5 separate regions of the Homo sapiens genome follow, and regions 2, 3, 4 and 5 are each linked to region 1. Evidence: fine-mapped expression QTL. A gene starts in region 1. Each other region holds a variant in brackets. All regions are shown on one strand. Distances are between the middles of the regions.

What was found. PIP is the estimated chance that this variant, and not a neighbour inherited with it, causes the effect.
Region 2: its variant is fine-mapped to the expression of KLHL6 in whole blood (TOPMed, PIP above 0.99).
Region 3: its variant is fine-mapped to the expression of KLHL6 in whole blood (TOPMed, PIP above 0.99).
Region 4: its variant is fine-mapped to the expression of KLHL6 in whole blood (TOPMed, PIP 0.99).
Region 5: its variant is fine-mapped to the expression of KLHL6 in T cells (TOPMed, PIP above 0.99). The same link has a PIP of 0.9 or more in blood mononuclear cells and whole blood.

The regions. Positions count from the first base shown.
Region 1 is chr3:183,553,613-183,558,717 of GRCh38, reverse strand. KLHL6 (kelch like family member 6) reads left to right here and starts at 3,012. Exons shown (of 7, transcript NM_130446.4): 1 at 3,012-3,357. The coding sequence starts at 3,065.
Region 2 is chr3:183,514,199-183,519,303 of GRCh38, reverse strand. The region is part of intron 2 of KLHL6 (kelch like family member 6); the gene reads left to right. Among named protein-coding and RNA genes, the nearest start is that of KLHL6-AS1, 32 kb to the left of the region's middle. RefSeq lists enhancers at 188-688, 2,695-2,974. The variant G/A (reference allele first, on the strand shown) is at 2,933.
Region 3 is chr3:183,491,572-183,496,676 of GRCh38, reverse strand. KLHL6 (kelch like family member 6) reads left to right here. Exons shown (of 7, transcript NM_130446.4): 5 at 2,396-2,598; 6 at 3,970-4,183; 7 at 4,449-5,105. The coding sequence ends at 4,750. Among named protein-coding and RNA genes, the nearest start is that of SNORA63E, 40 kb to the right of the region's middle. The variant C/T (reference allele first, on the strand shown) is at 2,938.
Region 4 is chr3:183,481,576-183,486,680 of GRCh38, reverse strand. No RefSeq gene overlaps it. Among named protein-coding and RNA genes, the nearest start is that of SNORA63E, 30 kb to the right of the region's middle. The variant G/A (reference allele first, on the strand shown) is at 2,193.
Region 5 is chr3:183,584,549-183,589,653 of GRCh38, reverse strand. No RefSeq gene overlaps it. Among named protein-coding and RNA genes, the nearest start is that of KLHL6, 31 kb to the right of the region's middle. The variant G/A (reference allele first, on the strand shown) is at 2,963.

The sequences.
Region 1 (5,105 bases):
AGGAAGTCAGACACAGATGAAACATTAAAAAGAAACAACGTTTCTTCAAAGATTAGGTCAGATCGGAAAGTAAAAAATCTGCCCTCCCATTCATCAGGCTAGGAAGTCAGACACAGATGAAACGTTAAAAAGAAATAACGTTTCCTTAAGTGACTCCTTGCAATTATAAATGTGTCATAAGGATACCCTTCGTGGGTGACTACTTATTCTTACTGAGAAAAATTGTTTTCTAAAAATCACAGACCATCAGAAACTTTGTTGTTTGCCATTGTGTCAGTAAGAATGAGATCTCATAGTTGTCTGGAAGATCTAAATCACTTTGACACTGGGAAGCAGTCTCAATTTCCAACTCAGATACGGGGCTTCTGAATACAACATTCCACATCTATCTCAATTTTGTAGTTTCCAGGGAGAAAAGACTTTGGGTCCACTGTAAAGTCTAGACTTAATGTTTATCCTTTTACAGATAGTCCCACTGTGCTTTGAACCTATCTTGATACTGTTCATTTACATTTAACCTAAACTTGGGGCAGGTGCGGTGGTGTGAGCCTGTAGTCCCAGCACTTTGGGAGGCCGAGACGGGTGGATCGCTTGAGCCCAGCAGTTCAAGACCAGCCTGGCCAACATGGCAAAACCCTGTCTCCACTAAAGATACAAAAAATTAGCCAGGTGTGGTGGTGCATGCGTGTAGTCCCAGCTACTTGGGAGGCTGAGGCAGGAGAATCGCTTGAACCTGGGAAGCGGAGGTCGCAGTGAGCTGAGATCGCACCACTGTACTCTAGCCTGGGCAACAGAGTAAGACTCCGTCTCAAAAACAAACAAACAAACAAACCTAAACTCCAAATTTTCTTGTAATTTTTATTAGAGTAAAATAAACCTATAAATGTATTCGGAAAGAATTGGTCCTTTTAATAATATTTAGTCTTTCCATAAAGGAACTTGGTATATTTATTTAAGTTTTCTTTCGAAACTCTTAGTAAAGTTTGTTAGTTTTCTTTATGTTGCTGGTTGCTGTTATTGCTAGGCATTTACATATGTTTTATTACCATTGTGAATGGCATTATTTTTCCATGACTTTTTTTTTTTTTTTGAGGCAGAGTTTCGCTCTTATTGCCCAGGCTGGAGTGCAATGGCACAATCTCAGCTCACTGCAACCTCCACCTCCCGGGTTCAAGCGATTCTCCTTCCTCAGCCTCCCAAGTAGCTGGGATTACAGGTGTACGCCACCGCGACTGGCTAATTTTTGTATTTTTAGTAGAGATGGGGGTTTCACCATGTTGCTCAGGCTGGTCTTGAGCTCCTGACCTTGTGATCCCCCTGCCTTGGTCTCCCAAAGTGCTGGGATTACAGGCATGAGCCACCACGCCCGGCCGTCAGGTTTCTTTATATGCTCCATTATAATCTTTTGGGACCACAATTGTATATTCAGTCCATCATCGATTGAAATGTCATTGTGCTGGGCATGACTGTACTTGTGACCGTTAATTTTAGATGTCAAGTTTACTGGGCTAAGAAATACCTAGCAACCTGTTAAAGCATTACCATGGGGCGTGTCTGTGAGGTTGTTTCCAGGAGAGATTAGTGAGTCTGAGTGGACTCGGTAGAGAAGATACACTCTCAGTGTGGGTGGGCACCATCCAATCAGCCAGGGGCCCAGAGAAAACAAAAACAGAAGAAAGGTCGATGTCTCTATCTCCTGAGGCTGGGATACAGTCATCTCCTGCCTTGAACAACAGGACTCCAGGATCCCCTGCCTTTGGACTTCAGGACTTACACCAGTCTCCCCACCCCCTGGATTCTCAGGCCTTTGGCTTTGGACTGAGAGTTATACCATCTTCTCTGGTTCTGAGGCCTTTGGACTTGAACTGAGCTCTCAGCAGTCTGTCATGCGACTTCTCAGTCTCCATAATCACGTGAGCCAATTCCCCTAATAATTTCCCTCTGCTATGCCTCTCTAGGTATCCTTTTGGTTCTGTCTCTCTGGAGTCCATCATCGACTGAAATATCATTATGCTGGGTATGACTGTAATTGTAATGGTTAATTTTAGATGTCAAGTTTGCTGGGCTAAGAAATACCTAGCAACCTGGTAAAGCATTACTGTTGGGCGTGAGAGAACGCTAACTGATACGCTCCTATAACTTCCCCAGGATATCATGGGATTTTAATAATGACAGTTATTACTACTTAACTGAGACATGCAGAGGTAATGAAAATACTTCAGGATCCACCGTTAGATGCACGGTCAGTAGATGTTGGGCTAATCTGAGACGTGCTATGGCAATTCGGTGTAGACCCACCCTGACTCATCCTCTGAGAAGATGCTGTTGATGGAGTTTTGGAAACCATTTCTTCTGTGCCCCCAAAGCATATTCGAAACAATAGACATTTTTTTTGGTGGGGGAAGACATGAAAGTTTGCCATGACGTTGTTTTCCCCTGGGTAGGGAGGAGGATGAAGATAGACGATCTGCAGTGCCGCCAGAAATGAGAATGTCAGGGATAAGTGGGGTTTCCATGGTTTACAAAGCACGGTTGTTGGATCATTGTGGGGTCTCAGACTCCTGGGAGGAGGAAGTGGGAGGATCATAGACTGTCTCCTGTCCATCCCCTCGCTGACGACTTGGGTTATTGAGCCACTAGGAGTACAAATGTGAAGCAGGAGGATTATAGACTGTCTCCTGTCCATCCCCTCATTGACGACTTGGGTTATTGATAGCATTAGGAGTACAAATGTAACAGCCACCACCGGAGGCTTCCTGCTCACGGATATGAGGTGGGAGATGCACCAAAATAAACACACAGCACTCACAGTGGACTCTGAGAGGACACTCCTCTTCCAGAACCCCCTCCCACACACCTATTCTAAGTAATTTCTAACCCTGTGATTACTCACAGAAAGAAGAAGAATAGAAGTTGCTGGCATTTGTAGTAACAGGATGAGAAAGTGCGAGACTTCCTGTTATGTGTGTGTGACAGCTGGTGATAAGTGGAGGGCCCTGCACAGGAAATCCGCTCAGCTCCTGCAATGGGGCCTGCCTGACACTTGGGCGCTCCTTCAGTCTCGATGTTGATGGCAGGACAAAGGGGCGCCTGGACCATGGGTGATGTGGTCGAGAAGAGTTTGGAAGGGCCCCTGGCACCTTCTACAGATGAGCCCTCCCAGAAAACAGGAGACTTGGTCGAGATCTTAAATGGGGAAAAGGTCAAATTTGACGACGCGGGACTCTCCTTAATTCTTCAGAATGGCCTGGAAACCCTGCGAATGGAAAACGCTCTGACAGATGTCATCTTGTGTGTGGACATTCAGGAATTCTCCTGCCACCGCGTGGTGCTTGCCGCAGCCAGCAACTATTTCAGGTCAGCATGCCTAGGACCAGAGTCAAATTGGGTGCAAGTTGCAAGGAAGAGGTGTGTTAGTGTGAGAGCCCAATCTTGAACAGTTGGCCATGATATTTATGGTTTACATATATATTAAGGCTTGTGTGTCTACTTAAAATATAAGAAAGGACACTATCACACTTTATTTTATTATTTATTTATTTATTTATTTTTGAGACGGAGTTTTGCTTTTGTTGCCCAGGCTGGAGTGCAATGGCGCAATCTCGGTTCACCGCAACCTCTGCCTCCTGGGTTCAAGCGATTCTCCTGCCTCAGCCTCCCGAGTAGCTGGGATTTGCAGGCATGCACCACAACACCCGGATAATTTTGTATTTTCAATAGAGATGGGGTTTCTCCATGTTGGTCAGGTTGGTCTTGAACTCCCGACCTCAGGTGATCCACCCGCCTCCGCCTCCCAAAGTGCTGGCATTACAGGTGTGAGACGCTGCGCCCGGCTTATCACACTTTAAATTTTAGGATTTAGGCCACATTAAAAGAGAGATTGGCATCATTTAAAAGCAATGCTTACATTCTATAGTAAACCTTTTGTGTATATTTCCTTGTTCCAAAGGATGGAAAATTACTGAAGTCATGGGGACTTTTTTCCCCCTTGGTCTGACTGGTGTTGGAAACATAATGTTGTCTTTGTTAATCAACAGACATAGAGAAAAAGGATGTGGCCCCTCTTCTGGAGTTGTCAAATGACTTGTTACAAATTAGGGGCTTCTTTATGTGTAGGCAGTGTGGGGAAAGGGAAAGCAGTTACAAAGATGCTTTAGATGGGAGAGGCCTCTAGTTACGATAAACTGGTGATCTCATAGTGGGAAGGCCTGAAGTCAGGAGACTTGGTTCCTTCTTGACAGTGAAACTTTAGGCAAGTCACAAAGTGCTCTGAATGTCTGTTTCATCATCTGTAAGGTGAGCACAATGATGATCACCTTTCAGGGCTGTCATAATTAAACAAGAGCGTGAAAAGGGTCCTACACAGTGTCTAGCATATAGTAAGTAGATGCTCAATATATCTTTCTTGGAATTCTTTTTCTGATTCTGCTTGATTCAGCTAAGGATGACTTATTGAGTGTTTCCCATGAGCACGTCCCTGGGGTAGGAATTTTATAGCGCTGGGAACCCAGTGAATACACCTGATCCAGTGTTCTCCATATCAGCATGGACATGGGGGAACCAGCCTGCAAGGGCAATGTGGATAATGAAGAAAGTATTTGGGAACTTGAAAAGAAATACCCTTAGAATTCTTCTTAATGAGATTCTTCTTAACTCTTGATTCTGGCTGAGGAAATTGAAAACGATTAACCTATGAAAGTATTATGGAAAGCGTTTTCTTTCTTTCTTTTTTTTTTTTTTGAGGTGCTTGGGGGGAAACGTTTCTTTGTAATTCATAGAGCAGGATCAGCAGGTTGCTGTGGGACTCATTAGGTCTCCTGTGTTGATAAGACAAGGGGATATCTGGGTTTGAGGGAAGCAGTGGCTGCTGTGTGCCAGACAGACATAGTTATCTGATTTTATTTTTGTAACAGCATGATGAAGGTGGCTGATATTTCACAGATGAGGAAATGAAAACTCAGCATTATATATCTGGTCATTGCTGGAGCAGGGACTGGGTATGTTCTGGAAATCCTTGTTACTGCAATGCAAGCTGCCACTAGGTCTGGGACTTCATTCCATGGGAAGTGTGTAAAATATAAAGTGTAAACACAGCCATCAAAATG
Region 2 (5,105 bases), 39 kb after region 1:
CCTGATTCTGGTCATTGGTCCTTGCAGGTCACTTTGCATTCTCTCTGTCCTGTTTGCAAAGCCTCTTCAGGTCTGGCAATCCTCTCAGCTACATCTGTGCCCCTCTCAAGACAAAAGACACTTCCATTCCCTCTCCTTTACAAATCCAGAGCTACAGGGGACGTGGAGCAACTGCCACAGGGCCCCTTTGTCTGGAAACAATACACTCTCATCTCATCTGCTGCTGCCATACCGGACTGCTGCTTTTCTGCTTTCAGCTCGGCGATCAAGGCACATGTTCTTTTGTTCTCAGATTCACAACCTATAAGGGACGTTTAGCATCCCCCTCACTCTGGAGATTTGGCCTGGGATGGGAAGCAAGGCATCATCTCGGGAACCCACCCCTGCTTCTCACTCTGTTGTTAGACAATCTCTCTCTTGTCCCTCTTCCTTGCCTGGGAATCTTTATTGCCTCCAGGGTGGGAAAAGCTGACTCTTGCTTTGTCATCCGTTCTCTCACGTCTCCTGTTTTGGTATAAACTTTGTACCCAGACTCTTTAGGACTCTGGCTTTTGAGGCTGGAAGGGGTAGGTTCTTACCACTAACTGGTATTTCTTTCAAAACCACTTCTCTAGTTTAAGTTCTGAAAGTCTATTTAGAAACTCAAAAGCCAAGAATTATCTTCTTTTGCCTGCTCTATCACCCCTTCCCTGAGTAAGCCTGTGCTCGGTTGCTGCCTATAGGTTGTAAAATACAGGAAGTGGGGTGTGGGGTTTTTAATTGTAATGAAAATCCATATCGCTACCAGATTCTGACTTTAACTGCTCCCTAACTACCACAAATTACTAAGCATGTTCTAAGTGCAAGGTGTTTTGTGAGAAGCTGTCAGGAGAATATAAAGATTAAAAATGTGGAGTACAGATCACATTTTTGTAGCAATTTTGTCCCCTACATATCCCATTTGATGTTGACCATGTCTCTGTGGGCGAGCAGGCTAGGTAGAACCATCAGTGTGAGCCTGCGAGGTGAGTTTTATGTTCTTAGCACTTTCCAGATGAGAAAACTAGCTGAGAGAGAGAGAGTGTTCAGCTCATCAAGTGGTGGAGCTATGGGTGGAATTTTCAAGTAAACCCAGAACTTCCAACTCCATATATCCACTTCCCTCCACTATCCCTGAAAGATTCTCAATGAGCCTCCAGGCCATTGGGCAAACCAAGTAGAGCCCAGGGCAGAAAGGAGGGGACATTGAATTGGACCTCATAGGATGGTGGCAGTAGGATTGGGAGAAAAGTATTCCAGGCAGAGAGAACCTGGAAGTGGACTTGTTTCAGCCTTCTCTACCCACCACCCCACCTATTGCAGCTGCCTGTGTTCACGGGGCTGCTTCTCAGCACTTGTCTTCTGCTTCCATTCCTGCTCCTGTGCCCTACGCACACACACACAAACCACACCCTGAGCATCAATCATGTCCGAGATGCAATCATTCTACTTAATCTTTACAACAGTGTTTCTCCCTGGTCCTTACCTCATTGCTGGGCTGAATCACTGAGCCCCAGCCATGCCACTTGCCCCTTGAATATGTGGGTCACATGTATTGCCTGTTGTGCCCTGCTAGCCTGCTGGGGCCACCACCGTCTTCTCTGGAAACTCAGGGGCTGTTTGCTGATTGAACACAATTGTAAGCTTGCCACACTGCTGGTCTTTTCCCCAGTCCACTTCCACAGTTGCCTCAGTCCCTCAACACCTGCCCTGCCTTAGTGAGCAGGTCTTTTGCAGGTCTTAGTTCCTTCCTTTTCTGCCCACTCCATGAGGCTTCCAGGAACCAGCAGGTTTCTCAGCCAAGTCTAGAGCAAGGACTGAAAGGAGTGGCTAGAGGGAGCAGAGAATGCCCCTCCTGGGGGACTGTGAGACATACTGCCACGGGAACGGAGCTGGAGCATCGCCCGGGAGAGGGGAAGAGAGGTGAGGATGGAAGATTAGAATCAATGGTAATTCACAAATTTTTAGCATGAAGACCCCTTTTAAACACCAACACAGACCTCACAGGAGAGGAACTTTACTTTTAGTGTCTATTGCTGGAGAAGAAAAGTTTTGACAAAAAATTTACAATTGTCTGGGCACAGTGGCTCACACCTATAATCCCAGCACTTTGGGAAGCCAAGGCAGGCAGATCACTTGAAGCCAGGAGTTCGAGACCAGCCTGGCCAACATGGCAAAACCCTGTGTCTACTAAAAATATTATATAAAAATTAGCTGGGTGTGGTGGTGCGAGCCTGTAATCCCAGCTACTCGGGAGGCTGAGGCACAAGAATCACTTGAACCCGGGAGGTGAAGGTTGCATTGAGTTGAGATCACACCATGCACTCCAGCCTGGGTGACAGCATGAGACTCTGTCTCAAAAAACAACAACAAAAATTACAATGAATTCAGAAATACTTTGAAATAAATTTAAATGTTATTAATCTCATCACACCTTCACACATGCTGATTTGTCGGAGCTGAAGGTAAGAATATCAATGTCTTTATAGACCCTTTGCAATAACGCCAAAGCCACTTGGACACCATGATCAACAGAATTGCTGATGTGGACTAAAATAGGACTTCAGTGATTCTGAAGTGGATTTGAAGGCACCTTGAGGGAGACATGGAGTCACATGGGTGAAGTCCCCTAGGACCTCAGATTTTGGAGAACGTCATGGGGAAGCAGAGGAGGGGCAGTGGAGATGAGGAACAGGCAGTGCTTTCTCTTGGAGGCAGACACTTCTTGTGGGAACTGCAGCCACGTCTCAAGTGGTTTCTTTGATTGTATTTTTAGTCTCCTCATTTGAGAGTCAGGTGGCTGGCTGCAACCTTTTGCTCACATGTCCCCCCAAACAGGAAGCTGGCTGTCTTTTGCCATTATCTGTCATCTCTCAGCTCTGACAAACAAGTTCATGTGTCATCGGGACAGGCC[G/A]AGACAGAAAATTTACCTTGAAGTCTTGAATAATCTTGAATGTGAAGAAGCAAAAGCATATTTAAAAGAAACCCATTTCTGGTTCCCATGATTGCCCTGCGCATCATCAGTTTCCCAGCCATTGGTTGGGATCATGTGATGTTGCCCTACACCCCTCACACTAAAAGTGTTTATTGAAGTATATTTTGGAGGAACTTAGGCAACTTGGAGATCCCCCACCTGCCTCTGTCCTCATAAAGCCTCTTCAGACTCTCCTGGCATTTTGTTAGCTCAACAATGCAACAAGTTACAAAGGCACCACGATGCTGACTGGAGCATCAACTGTACTGCCTCCTAGCAGTGTGAACTTGCATCGCTCTTTGAATTCTCTATTTGCTCCTTTATACAAATGCTAATTCTAACACCTTCCCTTTTTTACCTGTTAAATAAAATACACTTGTTAAAAAATAAAATTTATTTGTTAAGTGAAATAATGACTGGGAATGTGTCTAGCACAGATCTTGGTGCATACTAAGTGATAAATATGTCCTTCCTCTGTCCCTCTTTCTCTTCTTTTTCCAGACTTTCTGCTAGATGCTGCTAGAAATAAATACCCAAGTATGACCTAGAAGCTGCTTTGAGATGCTTGTCTCAACTGACCTTAGTACTCTGGGTGCTCCACAAAAGGGGAAAGCAAGGTGCCCAGTGGAGCACAGAGGAGGGAGGGATTCCATGTTGGGGAATAGGAGAAGCCGTCAAGGAAGAAGTAGCTTTTAAGAATGAACTTCATGAATAGGTAGGATTTCTCTACAATTCTTCTTTTCCTTTTTATTTTTAGTTTTTTAGAGACAGAGTCTTGCTCCGTCACCCAGGCTAGAGTACAGTGGTGTGATCATGGCTCACTGCAAACTTGAACTCCCAGGCTCAAGCAATCCTCCCTCCTCAGCTTCCCAAGTAGCTGGGACTATAGGCATGCAACACCACAACAGGCTAATTTTTACATTTTTTGTAAAGACGAGGTCTCACTATGTTGCTCAGGCTGGTCTTGAAATCCTGGGCTCAATTGATTCTCCTACCTTGGCCTCCCAAAGTGCTGGGATTATAAGCTTAAGCCATTGTGCCCAGCCCTTAAACAATTATTGACCCAGAATTTTAAATGTCCAGAGGTGGGGTTCCAAGCACCGTCTAGTCAAGACTCTGGCTCTCTTCCTCTCTGGATCTTTTGACTTAGCTCTCTCTCTTGTGTTGGTTTTGTACTTAGGTGGAAGGATACCAGGGAGTAACTCACCTGTCCCCTGCCAACTAAGTTCCCAGAAAAATGCCACATGTGCAAATGTTCACATACTATTGTAGGGGTTCACAGACTTTCTGGATCGATCCATTGATCCCAGATGTAATAACTCTGAATCAAGAAAATAGCCCTGGCCGGGCATGGTGGCTCATGCCTGTAATCCCAGCACTTTGGGAGGCCGAGGTGGGCAGATCACTTGAGGTTAGGAGTTCGAGACCAGAATGGCCAACATGGTGAAACCCCATCTGTACTAAAATACAAAAAAATTAGCCAGGTGTGGTGGCGTGCCCCTGTAGTCCCAGCTGCTTGGGAGGCTGAGGCAGGAGAATCACTTGAACCTGGGAGGCAGAAGATGCAATGAGCCGAGATCGTGCCACTGTACTCCAGCCTGGGCAACAAGAGAGAGACTCCATCTCAAAAAAAAAAAATTAAATTAAATTTAAAAAAAGAAAGAAAACAGCCCTGTGTGGATAGAGTCATGGCTATAATATTTATGTCTTCCTTCTTCTTGAGGTAAACTTACAGGGGGATTTCTCTGTTGAAAATGGGGTGAGCTATCCTGAGTCTTTCCTTAAAAAGTTGGGCTCTGGAGTTGGGCTTGTCTGGGTGAGGCGCGTAGGATCATAACAGATGGTGATGATGAGGAAAGGCAGCTCAGGCCGAGAGATGGCAGGAGCGTGGAAAGGCACTGCAACAGGGCAGCTCCAGGACTGCTTGGAGGAGGTGAGGAGATGGGTGCAATTGTGGCTAGAGTTCTGAAAGGGAGGTTCCTGGTGATGACTGACAGCCAGATTGTGGAAGATTGAAGGGGTGGGGGTAGGACTGTCCTTGGTTTCAGGCAATGGAGTCCCTGGACTCTGGTCCATAGCATTTATCTCAAGTGTCCTTCCACACTCCGTGTTG
Region 3 (5,105 bases), 62 kb after region 1:
ACATGCAAAGCACATGGTGGGAGCTTAATTATGTTGGCCAGTATTATCACTACTGTTATTCTTTTTACCAGCTATATGGCAGTCTACCAAATGGATAAACCATAATTTTTTTAGCTTTCTTTTTTTGGTCTCCTTAAAAAATATTGCAGTAGGCATTCTTAGACACATATTTTTTCATACTTGTGCTGCTACTTGGAAAGTTTCCTGGAAGTGGTCATATGTGAATTAAGAATTTTGTATATATTGTGAAATTTTCCTACAGAAAAGTTGTACCAATTTACAGTTCAATCAGTGATGAATGACAGTGCTCATTTTCTATATCCTTGCTAACGATTTTTATTATTAGTCATTTAAATTTTTAATAGACTAGAATGGTAAATATATATTTACCAGATAATTGTATTTATTTTTAAAAATTATCTGTTCATACTCTTTGACACTTCCTATCAGTTTTTGTCTTGTTCTTACTAATTTTTTGGAACTCTTCTTATATATCCTTTGCTATTTGTGTTGCAAATATTTTCTCCTAGACTGTGGTTGTTTTTTACCTTTATATACTTGTTTTCTGTCCTATACAATTCTACATTCATGTCATGCTTAGAAAACCCCTCCTAACCCCAAGGTCATTAACATAATATCCTATACATTTTCCAGTTACTTCTGTAGCAGTAACATTTGAATTTTATTTTAAATGTAATGTAAAATAAGTATCTAACTTAATCTTTATCCAAATGAATAACCAATTGTTCTAATAACATTTATTTAATGATCTGTATATATTTTAGTCCGTTTCTGTGCTCTTGTTTTTAACTGATCAGTTTGTCTAGTACTGCACTGTTTGTATTAGGATAGCTTTATAGTATATTTTAATATTTGATAAGGAAAGCCTCCTTCTTCCCTTTTCTTTTTCAAAAGTTTCTTAGAAATTTTTCCAAACTTACTCTTCCCAGTGAAATTTAGAATTATCTCATCAAGTTCCCCTCAAAAGTCTTGAAGGCACTGAGTATATAGATTAACCTAGGGAGGGTTGACATCTTCACAATAAGGTGTCTTCTGATTTATGCACACAATATGCTTTCTCAGGGTTTTTTTTTTTTGTCCTAAAATAAAATCATAGGTTTTAATAAAGGTTGCATACATTTCTTTGAAAATTTACATTTATTTTATACTTTTTGATGCTACCTAAATGGGATCAATGTTTTGAATAAATGGAGACCTCTGAAAGGTACCCCACCCAAAGGAAAATAGCCAAACTATATGAACAAAAGATTCAAGGAAGAGGAAGCTCAGCTTCCCTCATAGTAAGCGAAAACCAAACTGACATAGTTTTTTTCCGTCAGACTTCAAAAAAATAAATAAATAAAAGAAAGAAAACAAAACCACCACCACCAACAAAAAGTGGGTATGAGGAAAAGTCAACCACCACAGCTGCGGAGGATGCCTTGGCTGCACCTATAAAAATTCAGGGTGCACATGGCTTTGACTTAGTAAACCCACTTCTGGGTTCCATGCTAGAGAAACACCCCTGACACAGAATGTGGTCAGTAATGTTCATTTCTCCACTATTGCACACATGTAAGTCTGAAAAGTAAATCTTTGCTTTAAGTAGTTGGTGGTAGTCTATGCTGATGGGAAAATGGAAACACAAAGCTGTTAAATATTTGATTAAAATCACCCAAAAAGTCAGTTCTCCTTTGTCTTTGTCTCTTTCCCCAGCTGCTGAATTTTGTATTTTCTGTTTTTTAAGAGAGTTGCCTTCAAGAAAATGTTTACCAGATCACTCTCAAATGATCTATTGTGAGCATCTCATACTTTTATAACAAAAATTATTTAGAAATAGGATAAATCCCACTGATTGTTTTAAACAGATCAGAGCGACAAACCAGGAGAATGTTGTAGGATTTCTTAGTGATTTTTCCAGGTCTGTATCTTTGCTTTTTGGTTTAAATAAAAAGTAAACATAGAATTTAAGCTGCCATGTAATTTGCCTTCTGCACAAACCCCACTGTCCCCGCCCAGCCTTGCTTCCTGCTCCCTGTGAGGGCAAACACTGAGTCCAGGCTCCCTCTGGTCCCTACCCACCCAGGCTGGCTTGGGTCCTGCCCCCTGAAGCCTTCTCAGGGCACTGCTCACTTAGCCACCTCTTCTCTGAACTCTCGCAGCACTGAGGTGGACATGACACAGTGTGGCACATCATCCATTCTGTCTCTCCCTGTTCCCCTGCATTTGCCTCATCTCCCCTGCCAGACATCACACACCTGCTGGGTTTCTTGTATCTCCCCTCAGGGTAGGGCTGGCCTGGGGACCTGGCACTTTTGGACATGTGGGATATTATGGGAGAAGCTGTATTTCTGACACATCTGATGGTTTCTTAAATGCTTTGTATCTCTTGCAGGTGGCAAAGAAACACAGCATGATGTTTGGAAATATAATTCTTCGATCAACAAGTGGATTCAGATTGAGTATTTAAACATAGGCCGCTGGAGGCATAAGATGGTGGTGTTGGGTGGCAAGGTCTATGTGATCGGAGGCTTTGACGGCTTACAGAGAATCAACAATGTGGAGACCTACGACCCCTTTCACAACTGCTGGTCAGAGGTATAGGACACGATTTCTACCAGTAACTGCCTGTATTATTACTTCAGTGCTTTTTTAAAAAGCTTTGGAACGTGCCTGCCGTGGTGGTCAGCTTTCTGATCACTTTACTTCCAAGGAGAACAGTTTTGGTGGCTCTGAGCTTCCCTCCTCCTAGGAGCTATTGCTTCAGTATTGCTGATCAAGTCACAGAAACAATGTCCTTCCAAGTGGTGAAGGTCTGTGTGGGCACCTGTCCTAATTTGGACAGAACCCCAGATGTGCACAGAGGCTCACCCTGTCCTTAGATGGGAGATCTCTTGGTCTGCATGTCTTGGTGTAGAGTCTTGTCTCCTCAGATGC[C/T]TTCTCTCCTATTCTTCTCCACACTGGACACATGCGGATCACTTTACTACACCGTTTATGAACCCAGAGTGATTTGGTCATGTTAGAAATCATCCCTTCTTTATTTTCCCATGGATGATGAGCCACTTACAGGCCTGCATGTCAGACTTTAGTAATGCAACCTCAGGTATATATCAGACCCAGGAAAAGAAAAGCCACCTCATCTCATTTCCAGGTTATTCCCAGTTTCAAATTTTCTTTCTCCTTATCAGATCAGATGTCCAAGCATGTTCCAGCTTAATGGAATGTACAACACAGTCATTGTAGGCACAAGCAAAGGTAGCCAGGTCACCACATCTAGCCAAGACTGTCAGCCTGAAAAGTGCTATATTGAGAGCCCTTAACATGTATGGGGGACATGCCCAGGATCTTCTCAAAACAAGCCCTATCACAGAGCTGCTCCACGATCTAAAAGGATCCTGTAAATAAATGGGCAAGAGGCTCTTGGAAGTCTCCTTTACTGTCCTGGGGTTCACAGGATAGAAGCACACGTCTGACTTAATCTCAAAATCCTCAATGCTGCCCCATAATGGAAGAGTCTGCTTACCTGTGGCCACCGTTTCAGCTTTTCTTCCTAGATATAAGCACCAAGGAAAATCAATGCTGGTACATAGTAGGCATTCCATAAATATTTTTCGAGTGGATGAGCACATGAATGAATATGAATATGCATGTATAAAACATCATTTTCCTCCCACACTGGCTGACTTCATCTGTATAAACTTATTCTTGCCTGAGAGCTGGATTCCGGGAGAGGCTGGCACATCCCAACACACAGCTTGCTCTAGCTTGCGTGGAGCCTGGAGGGAGGGTGGGAAATGCATGCTTTCATTCTTGCTGTGTCTTAAGAGGAGTCAAGCCCATGGGCCTTGTGACTATAGGCAAAAGATGCCCAGTTCTGTGTCCCGGAGCTCTGTCCTGTATCCTGGGAGCTACTGCAGCAATCTGGGCAGCATGACTGACAGCTTCTTCTTGTGCCCTGTGCCTCTACAGGCCGCACCCCTCCTTGTCCATGTCAGTTCCTTTGCAGCCACCAGCCATAAGAAGAAGCTGTATGTGATCGGGGGAGGGCCCAATGGGAAACTGGCCACAGACAAGACTCAGTGTTATGACCCTTCCACCAACAAGTGGAGTTTGAAGGCGGCCATGCCCGTGGAGGCTAAATGCATCAATGCAGTGAGTTTCCGGGACCGCATCTATGTCGTTGGTGAGTAATGGCTTCTTATTGGTCTGAATGGCTTAGAACCTGATGAGCGCCTGGCTGCAGCACGTAAACGGTGTGTCGCGGTGTCTCCAGCGCTGGCAACTCACTGCCCCTAGGACCCACTCTGGCTTTCAGGAGAGCCATCAATCGACTGTTTCTCTTGGCAAGAGGGTAGACTTGGCCTAATCAGAAGTTGAATTTTAGTGGTTAAGAGGGAAGAAACCAGAAAAATGGAGCGATGCCCACCGTGTTTCCTCCCTCTCCTCAGGTGGGGCCATGAGAGCGCTGTACGCCTACAGCCCGCTGGAAGACAGCTGGTGCCTGGTGACCCAGCTCAGCCACGAGCGGGCCAGCTGCGGTATCGCGCCCTGCAACAACCGGCTCTACATCACCGGCGGGCGGGACGAGAAGAACGAGGTTATCGCCACGGTGCTGTGCTGGGACCCCGAGGCCCAGAAACTGACAGAGGAGTGCGTCCTGCCCCGGGGCGTGTCGCACCACGGCAGCGTCACCATCAGGAAGTCGTACACCCACATCCGCAGGATCGTGCCCGGAGCAGTGTCTGTCTGACGGCAGGATGGGGAGCTGGAGAGCCCCCCCGACCCTCAGCGTACCCGCCTCACCTCTCACCCTCCTCCAGTCCCACTTCAGGCAGCAGGCTCGAGTTTGAGGCCATACATCAGGGGATCCCCTTGACTCACTTTGGGGGAACCTTGGAAGTCACAGTTTGGGGTCACTTGAGACCGGCCAGGAATGTTTGCATGACCTACCTCAGGAGGGGAGGCGAGGAAGAGTAATATTTAGCATTCAGGACCCACCCACCCTATGCCGGCTTCTGTGCCAGGCACTTCCTTTTATCGGTTCATTTAACCTGGTGACTGGCTCTTATCACTTCTAGTTTACAGGTGAGGGAACCAAGTTTCAC
Region 4 (5,105 bases), 72 kb after region 1:
GGTGTATGGCATCTTCTGGACCAGCTCCTTTTCACTGGACGTGCAGCCTTCATACAGGATCTCAGTTCTCTCCCGCCCTCCATAGGCCCATGCCTTATGTTCCGTTCCTGCATGTGGCCACAGTTGAAAACTCTTTGGTGCTGGGGATGAATCCAGGTCCAGTCCCACCCTCCCCAGTCTCCCCACCATTGGCCTGGCTGCTTACCAGTCACTCTGTTTTTCACTTCCATGTTTGTTTACTGGCACCTGGGGATTTTCCTTTTCTCTTTGCACATTCAGATGTCTGCTTTGTTATTGATTCCCACATGAAACGCTGCCTTGAAACCCATGCCCAACCATCTCTACTCATCTGCCTGGATAGAGAATATGAGACTTCCTGCTTATAAATTCTTTGGGAAAGTTAAAGCTGGGTAGAGGGAAAAGGGGGTGGCCTTTGATGTGTAAGACAACTGGAAATCTCCCTTTGTAACACGAATCCTGGTTCCTCCACGTTTGGCAGTGGAAGGAGAAGCTCCCAGTGGGCACGGAAATTTGGACCTCATAGCCCCAACTCTTCCCTGTAAGGAAAGAGTCCCATACACAACTCTTCATTTAATTTCCTAAGGAACATCAAAGACCAGACTGGAACAGTTAAAACTTTACTTATAACTTAAACATAGGAAGGGAAGATACTCTAGATTATGAGGATGACAAGAATCAGCTATCTCTGAGAAGCAATGTTTGTCTTGAGAAGAAGTGTGTGTGTGTGCGCGTGTGCATGTGTACGTATATGGTTTAAAAATAAAAATAAACAAGCTGGACATTAGTTAAAGCAGTGAAAACAAATTTTATTCAGTAACTGCTGACAGTAGCGGAAAGAGCTGAGCTCTATTCTGATTTGTGCAGAGATGCTGACTGGGCCTTTTAAAGGGAGAATAAGGGAGGCAGGAGGTGGAGCGAGCAGGTTCAGGTAGAGTCAGGGAAGTGAAAAATGACAAAGTGTTGGGCAGAGTCAATATGATGAGACCAGCTGTGTCTGCTAGCTGGCAGTTCTCGAAGCTAGGATCCTCTCTCCTTCCTGATAATTACCTTGAGGGGAATGGCTTTCAGGTCCTTGAGAAAGACACCCCTGAGCTGTAGGCAACACATACATAGTAGCTCAGAGCAACAGAGGAAGGATTCACAATGGTAAGCCTCCTTTTTTTAGTAAATGCTCTAAAAAAGCAAGATCAGGGGCCTGTTGTCAGATGTTGGTGGAACAAACTCAATTCTTTTGACAGCCTTAAGCTTTCCCAGACAGCAACTCAAAAGGGGGCTGGGCCATCCCAGGGACGTGGCCTCAGGCTGCTAGAAGCCATGCGATGGTTTGGTGAAGTCTCTGAGCGCAGGGTATGAGTGGAGTGTTGGTACTGAGAGTTTCAGTGTCCCAGGTATACTTACCTTATGAAACAGATACAGTTAAAAGAACAGGTGTGCCCACCACCTGCGCTGCTGTTGGCAGCATTTTAAAAGAGAACTGACCATTTTCTACAATCCACCACAGGCCCACTGTGCGAGGCCAGGAGTGCCGAAGCCCCTTCTTCTAGAATCTGCTGAAGGCAACTAAAGAGAAAAATAGTACTAAAGCTTCTTTGACCCATACAGGCCAGAGCAGTGCTTTCAAACTTTCTTGAACATGTATCACAATAAGAAACACATTTTCTGTATTTCCTATTCTATTTTTTTCTTAAAATGCTGTTCACAAGCCACCAAATTAATTTCATCACCCACTAAATGGGTCACAGGTCACAACCCATATCTGAAAGGTACAAGGCTGGAGGGCACTGACCTGGGCAGACAGGGCAGGGGTGAGGGGAGATGAGGGTGGCAAAGCCTGGTGTATTAGTCCATTTTCATATGCTGTGAAGAAATACCCGAGACTAGGTAATTTATAAAGGAAAGAGGTTTAATGGACTCACAGTTCCACATGGCTGGGGAGGCCTCACAATCATGGCAGGAGGTGAAGGAGGAACAAAGACATGTCTTACATGGCAGCAGGAAGGAGTGCCTGTGCAGGGGAACTGCCCTTTATAAAACCATCAGATCTTGTGAGACTTACTCACTATCACGAGAACAGCACGGGAAAAACCTACCCCCATTATTCAATTACCTCCCACCAGGTCTCTCCCATGACACCTGAGGATTATGGAGCCACAATTCAAGATGAGATTTGG[G/A]TGGGGACACAGCCAAACCATATCATCTTGATTTAACAAAGCGGCAATACACAGAAGGCAGAGGGAAAACCTGACTGCGCAGAGAAATCTGTAAGTCTGGCCTTAGATAAACAGGATTTTTGTTGGTGAAATTCTGTTCTTTGTTTTTTTGTTAGTTTGTTTGTTTTGTTGAGTTTTTTGAGGTTTTTTTTTGAGTTTTTTGAGTTTTTTTGTTAGTTTGTTTTTTTGAGTTTGTTTGTTTTTTTCTGTCGCCCAGGCCGGAATGCAATGGTGAGATCTCAGCTCACTGCAACCTCCACCTCCTGGATTCAAGCAATTCTCCTACCTCGGCCTCCTGAGTAGCGGGGATTACAGGCACCTGCCACTACGCCCAGCTAATTTTTGTATTTTTAGTAGAGACAGGGTTTTGCCATGTTGGTCAGGCTGGTCTCGAACTCCTGGCCTCAGGTGATCCGCCTCCGCCTGCCTTGGCCTCCCAAAGTGCTGGGATTACAGACATGAGCCACTATGCCTGGCCGAAATTCTATTCTTTCATAGTAAAAATGTAGTAATAGGAGCATCTATTGAGTAATTTCCCTGAAACATGAGACCAAGCCAGAAATAGAAAAAAAAAAAAAAAAGAAAAAGATTAGGACAGTGACAAAACTAGTCTAGGAAGAAATGCTGAGGTTTTTAATTGTCAAAGTGCATTCTGGTAGAATGTCACATTCCGGGAAAAGGTCACTGGAGGAATCTGTAGGAAAAATGATGCCTTAGATTTTGTTCTGAGTTCTAAGTAGACATTAGTGAAAGAAGGAATGGGGTGAGTCTTTGTGAAACAATGCAACAAATATTCATTGAGCGCCTACTACGTGCCAGGCATGATTTCTGTCCATCTGTGAACAAAACAAAGCCTCTGCTCACATGAGCTAACATTCTAGTAGAGAGAGACAGGCAAGAATCAAACAAGCATATAATATAATGACAAGTAGAGATAAATGTCCAAAGAAAGTAACTCAGGGGAAGGGTGATGCATGCTACTTGAGCTAGGATGAACACAGCCAACCTTTCTGATAGAGACACTTAAACAGAGGCTTGAGTGAAGAGAGCATGAGAGGCCTGAGAGTATCTGGGGAAGCTTACTCCAGGCAGAGGGAAGAGCTAATGAGGCTCTGAGGTGGGAGGCTTCTGTGTATTTAAGGAACAGTCATGGCTGGGCACGGTGGCTCATGCCTGTAATCCCAGCACTTTGGCAGGCCAGGATGGGCAGGTCATTTGAGGTCAGGAGTTCGCGACCAGCTTGGCCAACATGGTGAAACCCTGTCTGAACTAAAAATACACAAAAATTTAGCTGGTCATTGTGGCATCCCTGTAGTCCCAGCTACTTGGGAGGCTGAGGCAGGAGGATCGCTTGAACATGGGAGGCAGAGCTTGTAGTGAGCCGAGATTGCGCCACTGCACTCCAGCCTGGGTGACGGAGTGAGACTCCATCTCAAAAATAAATAAATAAATAAGTAAGGAACAGTCAAGAGGCCTGTGTAGCCGGACTAAATTCAGAGCCATGGTAGGGAGTCTCAGAGGCCTGTGTAAGCACTTGGAATGTCATCAGAGTAAGGTGATAGCTCTTAAGACAGGTTCAGAAATGCTAGAGACTCACAAATGTTCCACACCTAAGCTTGTGGCTTGCAAATCCAAGTCAGCTATGTTCGCAGGTGCGTAACAGCAAGGAATTGCCACCCTGAGCCCAATGTTTTTATGAATCCAACGTATATTGAGTTTGTTCTCCAAATCCATGCTCTGTCTTGGGCATGATCCTGTTCTGGGCACTCATATTACGGTGGGCTGGGGCTGACTCTCCAAATTGCCTACTCACACACCCTAGGGTTGTTGGGGAAGCCTTTCCAGGAGCTACGATCCCAACTCATTCCCAGTGTAGGTGGAAGGCAGTACTTTGATCATGTGACCGCTTATCCATTCAGCATCTTGGTGACAGTGGGAACATCAGTGCTGGTGTTAGTGGGGATGGGCAAAAGGGGACAAAAGCCAGAACTCTTAAGTTAGTGTGCCCCAGGAAGCCCAGTTAATTTTTGAAAAGATCTTGTTGGCAGCCTAAAATCATGTGACCTGAGATCCAGCACATTAAAAAACAAACTAATAAAAATTTCAATGGCTAAATGCAAACCAACAAACTATTTTAAAAACCTGTAGGCCGGGCGCGGTGGCTCATGCCTGTAATCCCAGCACTTTGGGAGGCCGAGGTGGGCAGATCACGAGGTCAGGAGATCGAGACCATCCTGGCTAACACGGTGAAACTCCGTCTCCATTAAAAATACAAAAAATTAGCTGGGCGTGGTGGCGGGCACCTGTAGTCCCAGCTACTCGGGAGGCTGAGGCAGGAGAATGGCGTGAACCCGGGAGGCGGAGCTTGCGGTGAGTGGAGATCGCACCACTGCACTCCAGCCTGGGCTACGGAGCAAGACTCCGTCTCAAAAACAAAAACAAAAAACAACAACAACAAAAAAAAAAACCTGTAAAAGAACGTGTGGCAATTCAGATGCAAGCTAGAAATTAGGTGCTGAAATTTTTATTTCCAATTTTAGAGACTTCATCTCCCTGGGAGGTGGGTTGCAATCCTCAGCAGGAAGCAAGCCTGGAGATGTGCTGAGGGTTAGAAAAGGCTGCGGCTTTGTTACTCACCTCCACTCTAAGTCACCTCATCCTGAAAGTACAGTAATAATAGACTATGCCTCATAGAGTTTGGGTGAGGATTAGACGAGATCGTACACGTGGAATGCTTAGCTCATCGCCCAACAGATTGTAAATGCACCGCACATGTTAGCTGCTGTAATTGTCCTTACTTGACTGAAGGCCCACGGGGCTGGGGGCTGTTTTCTTGCTGGTTTTTATATCTATAGCACTTAGCACAGTGCCAGG
Region 5 (5,105 bases), 31 kb before region 1:
CTCCAGCTTATAAAAGAGATTAATGAGACCAAGGTGCGTAAGAAATTGGAGAGAAAATTTGTTTAGAGAGATGTGCCCTATGAGTTTTTCCCCATCGTACAGAAGCAGTGGGGGATGCTTGCCCCTCCTGACCAGTGTAGGGAAAGGGGCTTTACTGGGGAGCACTTAGAAGGTGGATCACAGTGGACTAGAGTCTGCCCTTGGCCGGCTAGCTGTTCTAATGGCAGGGAGAAGAGATGGTGCTATGTTGGGGCAAATGATGCTTATGAGTGCTTCCCACGGGCCTGAGGTAGCACTCACAGAGAAAGCAAGCAAGCTTGAGGTTTTCTTAGATCCTGCCCAGGAGGGCTGCTTGGAGAAAAAAACCCAACCACAAACAAGTGTTGGAGATGTACTATTAGATTCCAAGGCAGTGAAAGAGGAATTGTAAGTGACCAGCCCTAGGAGATGCATTTACTTACAGCATGGGAACTGCCATTGTAAGATTTCCAAAGATGAGTCTGAAGAAACCATAATATTGTCCCAAAAGAGAAAGAATAAGCTCTAGATGCCTGGAAAGCCCAGACAGCTCTTATTAGTTTACGACAAGACTAGCCACGTAGGATCTTTCCTGCCCTGTCCCTTTCTACCTCCCCACTCTGCTTCCATTCTAGAGGAACCAGAGGCAGCCAAATGAGCTGGGAAAGAGGACGTCACATTTCAGGTGAAATAGAGGACAGCTGACTCCCACTGGAGGCAGCCAGGCTGGAGCAGAGAGCCTCAACTCTTCATGAATTTGGAATACTTTCTTATTACCATTCATAACGCTTATTGAAATGAGACTCTCTCTTTCTCTCTCTATGTGTGTGTGACCAGCAGTGACCAGATGGCTTTATATTATTTAAGAATGTCCACAAAAGTCACACAATCCCCTTCAGTTTTGTTCAAGGGAGCAGGGAACAACTAGTTCCATGGAGGGGATGGCTTGAACAGGTAGTGGAGGAAAAGAATAAAGTGGTTTTCTGATTACACTGCGTGCTTCCCTCTTGCTCAATGTATCATTAAAACTGGCTATTTCTGCTATCCAACCTTTAAATGAACTTATGCCCCAAGTCCTGTCCTGGGTCTTCTCTCTTTTTCCGTTTCATGGCTTTAACTTCTCCTAAGGGGGTGACTTCCAAATGTGTACCTTTAGCCCAAATATTTCATCTGGGCCCCAGAATCATGAATCCAATTGCCACCGGCAACTTTACATGGACCTCTAATAGGCATCTTAATATGCCCAAATTTCCCTGCCCCATCTTCACCATCTGTTTTTTTTTCCAATTTTTTCCATATAGTTTGTTAAATTATATAATAAAGAGCATAATCTTCCAAACAGTTGCTTAAACCCCACATTGAGGAATCGTTTTAGATTTCTTCCTCGTCCTCCCCGCCTGCATTCAGCTCATGACAAAGTCTTGCCAATTCTACCTGAAGAATATATCCCAAATGCATCCTCTTCCTGCCATCTCTGCTGTCACCCCCAGTCCAAGGCGCCATAATCTTTTGCCTGGACTACAGTCAAACCCTCCTATCTGGCCTCCCTTCTTCCACTTCCCTGTTTAGTCTGTTTTCTACATCACGAGGATGGATTTCTTTTTTTTTTTTTTTTTTTTTTGAGATGGAGTCTCCCTCTGTCCCCCAGGCTGGAGTGCAGTGGCGCTATCTTGACTCACTGCAACCTCTGCCTTCTGGGATCAAGTGATTCTCATGCCTCAGCCTCCCTGAGTAGTTGGGACTATAGGCGTGTACCACCATGCCCAGCTAAGTTTTTTTGTACTTTTAGTAGAGACGAGGTTTCACCATGTTGGCCAGGCTGGTCTCAAACTCTGGACCTTAGGTGATCCACCAATCTCAGCCTCCCAAAGTGCTGGGATTACAGGCGTGAGCCACCGCGCCCGGCCACAAGAGTGGATTTTTAAACATTTAAATCTAATCATGCATGTCACTGCCCTACTTAAATCTTCTATTATTTTCCTTCTTCATGTAGAATAAACTTCAAACTACTAACCATGGCCTAGAAAAGCCTCCATGACCTAGTCCCTGTCTTCCTCTTTCGTTACAACTGACTACTCTCTCTTGCTCACTAAGCTGCAGCTGCTTTTGCTTGACTGTCCCAGTTTCCTGCCTACTTCCTGTTCTCCCTGCCTAGAATGTTCTTCTACTGACTCTTGTAAGACTGGGTCTTTGTCAACCTTCAGATCTCTGCTCAAATATCAACTTCTTGGGGAGGCTTTTTCTCAGCAAGCTTTCTTTCCTTTCCTTTCCTTTTCTTTTCTTTTCTTTTTTCCTTAGAGACAGGGCCCCACTGTGTCACCCAGGCTGGAGTTCAGTAGCACGATCATACCTCATTGCATCCTTGAAGTCCCGGCCTCAAGCGATCCTCCCACCTCAGCCTCCCAAGTAGCTGGGGCTACAGGTGTACACCACCAGGCCTGGCTAATTTTTCTTATGTTTTTGTAGAGATGGGGCCTTGCTATGGTGTCCAAGCTGGTATTGAACTCCTGGCCTCAAGTGATCCCCCTGTCTCGGCTTCCCAAAATGCTGAGATTACATGCATAAGCCACCTTGCCTGGCCCTGAGCACTCTTTCTAAAGCAGGTTCTCCTGCACCCTGTGTTACTCTCTATCTAATCACTATATTTCTTTTGTCCATAGCACTAGTCAAACATTTAAATTATCTCACTACTTGTTTAATTATTGTCTATCTCTTTTATCACAATATAAATTTCATTGAGATAGAGACCTTTCTGTCTTATTCACACAAGTATTCTTGGCACCTAGAATAGTATCTGGCAGATAGTAGGTGCTCAGTAAATACTCAGTGAATAAATGAATGAAAGGGGCAACATTCACCCATGTGTAAGTATCCTCTGGAGGAACTATGTAGACTGAGTTAGATGAGCCCAGAGTGAAACCATAAGACCTTTAAAGCTCGTTCC[G/A]AGGAGAGGATGTTGCTTGAAGGTGTGGTTTCCTCCAACTGAGTGAGCCGCCGCCCTACACCACTGTGTTACCTGGGAAGAGAAGGATAGGAGAATGTTCAGGGCCAGGGGACACTAGATGTTAACAGAAATTCATTTCGTTTTCTTTTGAGTTAGAAGATGAAAGATAAGAAAACTTCTCAAGGCTTGGGCAGCCCCTCTCCAAGAAAATCCTGCTAGAATGGCAAGAAGGGCAATACTTTAAGCATTCCACCCTTTGATGGCCATACAGAGTGACAATCCCTTCCATGCAGAGGGCACAGGTGGACACCTCCCTCCTTGCAATCAGAGCATGTACCTACACTGGAGCCCTCAAGACCTCCTAAGGCTGAAAAATGTCTCGTGCACACCCAACTAATAGAAGATCCACGGTGTCTTGGGTGAGGTTCTGTGAGCCATAGAAACAATGAGAAATTTGGGGATATCATTGTGTATTTATTAATTTTTTATTTTTATTTATTTATTTGAGATGGAGTCTCGCTCTGTTGCCCAGGCTGGAGTGCAGTGGCACGATCTCAGCTCACTGCAAGCTCCGCCCCCCCAGGTTCACATCATTCTCCTGCCTCAGCCTCCTGAGTAGCTGGGACTACAGGTGCCCGCCACCATGCCCAGCTAATTTTTTTGTATTTTTCGTAGAGACAGTGTTTCTCCATGTTAGCCAGGATGGTCTCGATCTCCTGACCTCGTGATCTGCCTGCCTCAGCCTCCCAAAGTGCTGGGATTACGGGCGTGAGCCACCGCACCTGGCCCCATTGTGTGTTTATAACCCCCATCCCCTCCTCACAACCAAATTCAAACTGCAAATAGCAATAGACGCCAATGACTATTTGACCAACACGCTATGGTGGAAAACACATGGGCTTTGGGGGTCAGAGACACCTGGGCTCAAATTCCATCTCTGTCACGTATGGCTTAATGATCTTGGGAAATTTGCTTAACCTCTCTGAACCGTAATCTTCGTCTATGACAAAATTACCCTTTGCAAAGTTGTTTGGGTTCAGTGGTTTGATACATGGAAAGGACCCAACAAATAGTGGTATGATCGTTATGGTGGTAGATTTTTGGCTTACAACTCAGCATGCTAAAACACTTTATAGGCATGATAAAATGCAAAGTCTGTCTTACCTTTCTCCTCCTATCTCTATAAACCTTAGAGGATTTGAGCCTTGTAGAGAAACCAAATATTTTAAAACAAAAAGTTTATTTTCAAATGAATTTTGGTAAAGGTTGATATCCAATGTGTCCATTTGAGCTGGGTTTTTTTACTCAGCAGCAAGAATCCTAATACAGCATGTAACACAATTCTTGACCATAGCAGCAACTCTCTAACTGTTTAACTCTCAACTCTCTAACTGATTGCTGTTGTTATGACTGTTGCCCTTGGTCCATGAAGTCTATGAAGATTGTACCCCTAGCTTCACTGGGGCATTCCTGAAACTCACTGTCAGTATGGTTCTAGAGACAGTTTGATAAGTCCAACTGTCCTTAAACAAAATCTTTGCTATTGGTTCTATCCATAGAGTACACCTGTTTCTACTTCCCTCTCTTATTCACGAAGTCACCCATTGATCCATTCATCATGTCACAAGCTAGGAAAAAGAGCTTCCTGTTAGTTAAATTATCTGATAACAAGAGACACAGGGATTCCTCAGTATCTCCAAAACAGACTCCAGTCGAAGCCAATTGGGAGTGAGAGAGAGGATCTGGTGTTGGTGCTCTGTGAAGGAAGACTCGTTATGTCCCTACAGTTAAGAGTTTTCTTACCTTTGAACAGTGCTTAGATAGGCTGTTCCTGTCCTTTGTTGACAGCTAATGGTTTTTTACAGGCCTGAGCTGATTCATGTCCTGCCTGACCCTGACTCTCACATCAGCCTCCTGAACTCATCTGTACTTGGCCTAACTTTAATTATCTGGTAACAGCTGCTGCCTCCTTCTCTGGTGCAGCCCCAGTCTGGGCCTGGCTTCCAGCTGGCTTCCTGAGAGCAGGCCTCCAAGGGGCTGGAACATAGATTCTGCATGTCTTTGCAGAGGGGTATTTTCCCTGATAGCATATCCCCTTGGAGTGGCAGAGAGTTACTTTTCAGCAATCCTTGCCATTCACAGA